2 separate regions of the Homo sapiens genome follow, and region 2 is linked to region 1. A link means that fine-mapping ties the variant in region 1 to the expression of a gene that starts in the linked region. Tissue or cell type: whole blood. Region 1 holds a variant in brackets; the other region holds the start of a gene. All regions are shown on one strand. Distances are between the middles of the regions.

Region 1 (2,500 bases):
ATATATATGCACCCAATACAGGAGCACCCAGATTCATAAAGCAAGTCCCGAGTGACCTACAAAGAGACTTAGACTCCCACACAATAATAATGGGAGACTTTAACACCCCACTGTCAACATTAGACAGATCAACGAGACAGAAAGTCAACAAGGATATCCAGGAATTGAACTCAGCTCTGCACCAAGCAGACCTAATAGACATCTACAGAACTCTCCACCCCAAATCAACAGAATATACATTCTTTTCAGCACCACACCACACCTACTCCAAAATTGACCACATAGTTGGAAGTAAAGCACTCCTCAGCAAATGTAAAAGAACAGAAATTATAACAAACTGTCTCTCAGACCACAGTGCAATGAACTAGAACTCAGGATTAAGAAACTCACTCAAAACTGCTCAACTACATGGAAACTGAACAACCTGCTCCTGAATGACTACTGGATACATAACGAAATGAAGGCAGAAATAAAGATGTTCTTTGAAACCAACGAGAACAAAGATACAACATACCAGAATCTCTGGGACACATTCAAAGAAGTGTGTAGAGGGAAATTTATAGCACTAAATGCCCACAAGAGAAAGCAGGAAAGATCTAAAACTGACACCCTAACATCACAATTAAAAGAACTAGAGAAGCAAGAGCAAACACATTCAAAAGCTAGCAGAAGGCAAGAAATAACTAAGATCAGAGCAGAACTGAAGGAAATAGAGACACAAAAAAGCCTTCAAAAAAAATCAATGAATCCAGGAGCTGGTTTTTTGAAAAGATCAACAAAATTGATAGACTGCTAGCAAGACTAATAAAGAAGAAAAGAGAGAAGAATCAAATAGACGCAATAAAAAATGACAAAGGGGATATCACCACCAATCCCACAGAAATGCAAACTACCATCAGAGAATACTATAAACACCTCTACGCAAATAAACTAGAAGATCTAGAAGAAATGGATAAATTCCTCGACACATACACTCTCCCAAGACTAAACCAGGAAGAAGTTGAATTTCTGAATAGACTAATAGCAGGCTCTGAAATTGAGGCAATAATTAATAGCTTCCCAACTAAAAAAAGTCCAGGACCAGATGGATT[C/T]ACAGCTGAATTCTACCAGAGGTACAAGGAGGAGCTGGTACCATTCTTTCTGAAACTATTCCAATCAAGAGAAAAAGAGAGAATCCTCCCTAACTCATTTTATGAGGCCAGCATCATCCTGATACCAAAGCCTGGTAGAGACACAACCAAAAAAGAGAATTTTAGACCAATATCCTTGATGAACATTGATGCAAAAATCCTCAATAAAATACTGGCAAACCGAATCCAGCAACACATCAAAAAGCTTATCCACCATGATCAAGTGGGCTTCATCCCTGGGATGCAAGGCTGGTTCAATATACGAAAATCAATAAACGTAATCCAGCATATAAACAGAACCAAAGACAAAAACCACATGATTATCTCAATAGATGCAGAAAAGGCCTTTGACAAAATTCAACAACCCTTCATGCTAAAAACTCTCAATAAATTAGGTATTGATGGGATGTATCTCAAAATAATAAGAGCTATCTATGACAAACCCACAGCCAATATCATACTGAATGGACAAAAACTGGAAGCATTTCCTTTGAAAACTGGCACAAGACAGGGATGCCCTCTCTCACCACTCCTATTCAACATAGTGTTGGAAGTTCTGGCCAGGGCAATTAGGCAGGAGAAGGAAATAAAGGGCACTCAATTAGGAAAAGAGGAAGTCAAATTTTCCCTGTTTGCAGATGACATGATTGTATATCTAGAAAACCCCATAGTCTCAGCCCAAAATCTCCTTAAGCTGATAAGCAACTTCAGCAAAGTCTCAGGATACAAAATCAATGTGAAAAAATCATAAGCATTCTTATACACCAATAACAGACAAACAGAGAGCCAAATCACGAGTGAACTCCCATTCACAATTGCTTCAAAGAGAATAAAATACCTAGGAATCCAACTTACAAGGGATGTGAAGGACCTCTTCAAGGAGAACTACAAACCACTGCTCAACGAAATAAAAGAGGATACAAACAAATGGAAGAACATTCCATGCTCATGGGTAGGAAGAATCAGTATCATAAAAATGGCCATACTGCCCAAGGTAATTTATAGATTCAATGCCATCCCCATCAAGCTACCAATGACTTTCTTCACAGAACTGGAAAAAAAAAACTACTTTAAAGTTCATAGGGAACCAAAAAAGAGCCCGCATTGCCAAGTCAATCCTAAGCCAAAAGAACAAAGCTGGAGGCATCATGCTACCTGACTTCAAACTACACTACAAGGCTACAGTAACCAAAACAGCATGGTACTGGTACCAAAACAGAGATATAGACCAATGGAACAGAACAGAGCCCTCAGAAATAATGCCACATATCTACAACTACCTGATCTTTGACAAACCTGACAAAAACAAGCAATGGGGAAAGGATTCCCTATTTAATAAATGGTGCTGGGAAAACTGGCTAGCCATATGT
Region 2 (2,619 bases), 86 kb after region 1:
CCTACTGCCTGTAGGGCAGTCTCTGAGATAAGAAGTAGCTGCCGGTGGAACAAATTCCCCCTACCTGAAGAGCGCCGCGGCTGCCAGGCTTGTGATAGTGTATTTCTCAGAGAGCAGATTCTGTGCAGTACTAAACCACTTAGGCAAAATTAAAATCTTTCAGGAATGTCTAAACTCACAAAGCACACATGTGCAAGCTGACGGGCAGACAGCAAATTTCGGGGAAGCGTACAAACTTGGGGGTGTTTTAATGCAACCATTTTCAGCCAAACCCCCGAGGATTCCCGAGTATGTTAAAATGAGCCTCAGGAGAGGAATAACTCATAGAAAGAAGGGGCAAGGGCTCAAGAAGAGATCTTCAGCGAAATAACCAAGGAAGGAAGCGTGGCTGCTGTCTGAACCTCTCCGCCCTGCAGGGGACCAAAGACCGACTCGGGCCAACGCTGCTCTCCAGGGGGCGAGGGCGGGGGGTCGACAGTGACCATTGTGGCCACCAGACCGGACGGACAGTGGCGGCCTCGCCGAAGTAGAGGGCGCGAGTGGGAGAGGAGGCAGAGGCCAGAGCATCCGCCGCGGCAGGGAGGGGACGGGGGGCTCCCGCCCCAGGCCCACCCGGCAGAGGGGCGGCCGGTGGGGCCGAGGCGGCGGCACCCGGGTCACAGCAGGAGGCTGGACTGCTCCTCGCCGGGAAGGAAAGACCCGAGTCGCGCGCACAAAGCTGCCGCCCTCCAGGCAGCGGGCAGGCTGCGCCCAACTTCGGGGCGAGCAGCGCCGGCCGCAGCCCACCCGCCCGCCAGCCGCCCCCAGCGCCCCGCGCCGCCTCGCACCCACCCATGGCGCCTCGCGCGGGAGCCGTTACCCCCAGTGGAGCCGCGGCCCCAGGGACAAAGTCCCGGTCCTGTCCTCGCCGCCGCCTCGCCCCGGCTCCTCCCTGACAAAAAAAAGTTATCCGTTGCCGGACGCCCTGGGGGCCCGGCGTGGGTCTCTCGGCTGGACTCACCAGGGCGGCTGCCGGAGCTCCACCTGCAGGACCTCGACTCGTGAGGCTCTCAGCGACAGCGACGGAGGCTGCTCTGCTTCCTCCCGAGTAGCAGCACCACCTGCTCCCCTTCTTCCTAGCAGAACGGGTCCCGGTGAGCCATCTTCCCCCTCCTCTCACTGACTGACAACCCAGCCGGGAGAGCCACCACTGCCGCCAGCCTCTCTGACAGGCACGACCAGGGACCCGTCCTCAAGCAGCCAACCACCACCGCCCCACGCCAGTTCAGCCTATCGCCGTCCTCCGGGGCGGGATCAGAACAACTTCTCCACCAATGAGAATCTTCTTCTGCTGGGCCTGGGGCGGAGCCATGAGGCGCCTTGAGTGGGCGTGGTCTGAGCAATGGGCGTGATCCGGGCGTCCGAGGGAAGTTGATTGACTGTAAGGTTTGCGGTGGCCGCTAGGCGATGACAATCAGCGAAGGTCTCTTAGATTCTGAGCCGTTAGGGCTTATGGCCTTCTCAGAAAAAAATAAACCTTACCGGATGATGTGAAGGGTATCAATTTGTTTCTCTTTTGTGAGAAAAGAGAAACAAATTGATAATTTACTAGTCAGTAGGATTTACTTCCCTGTAATTAAATTCACAAGAATTTATCAAAATCTTATCAAATCCCGGGAGGAAAAAAAAATTACGTTTTTGCAAAATGGAAATACAAACTTCCCCCTCACTACATCATTGCTTTTGGGCTTAGCCTGGAAAAAGTCAAATACGATGCCTCAGTTTTCTTTCCATGGGGGTTGTTTTTATTTTTTCCATCATTCCTCCCTACTTTTTCTCTGAACATATACTAAATGTTTTGTATAATAACTGGAACCCGAGAACACCTGAACCTGCGCCTGCAGACAGTACTGCTGTTTTTGACCTTGTAAACCTCTCCTACCACATCCTTCTCAAGACTGGTCAGGATTAATTAGAAGAAAAACTGACCTCCACCCTAGAAGACAGGAAGTTCATTCTAGCTTTACACTAGAAATGGGCAGGATTTCTCCAGAAACACTAAGTGAACTTTTCAAACATGCTGAACTCATAAATAACAAGCACATAAATAAGAAGATATATTACTTGATATCAAAAGGGTATCAAGCAAACAATTTCAGGTAATTATTAGGGCAGATTGCTAAAACAGATAGGATCCCCCTCCAAAGGGAGGATCAGATTAATGAGTAAATAATAACAAACTACAGTGATAAGGACAATAGAGATTGGTTCAATGAGCAATGGAAACAGAGGACAAGAAATGACTGTTTAGGAAAGTCAGCGAACTCCACAAGGAAGGTAATGTTTGAGTTGGATCTTAAAAGGTAAATGGGAGTTTGCCAGAGAAGAAAGTCAAAGGGTATTTCAGAAAGGGAGAACACCATGTTCAAAGGCATGGAGCTGTGAAAGGGCACAGAGCCATTGTGGAATGTTGAGAAGGTAGATGGGGTTAAATGATGAGGAACGGCCAAAAATTGGGCTGGAGCAAAAGGTTGAGGTGAGATTGTAAAAGACCTCACAAGCTACACTAAGATATTCAGACAAGCACTGTCCAGCAGAGCTTTCTGCACTGGTGAAAATGTTCTATATTTGTGTTGTCCA

The links. PIP is the estimated chance that this variant, and not a neighbour inherited with it, causes the effect.
Region 2: HYCC1 starts here. The variant in region 1 is fine-mapped to the expression of HYCC1 in whole blood (INTERVAL, PIP above 0.99).

What each region holds. Positions count from the first base shown.
Region 1 is chr7:22,926,642-22,929,141 of GRCh38, forward strand. It overlaps a transcript of HYCC1 not described here. Among named protein-coding and RNA genes, the nearest start is that of SNORD93, 71 kb to the left of the region's middle. The variant C/T (reference allele first, on the strand shown) is at 1,092.
Region 2 is chr7:23,012,925-23,015,543 of GRCh38, forward strand. HYCC1 (hyccin PI4KA lipid kinase complex subunit 1) reads right to left here and starts at 1,206. Exons shown (of 11, transcript NM_032581.4): 1 at 1,001-1,206. RefSeq lists enhancers at 1-589, 1,007-1,196, 1,357-1,536 and a silencer at 547-816.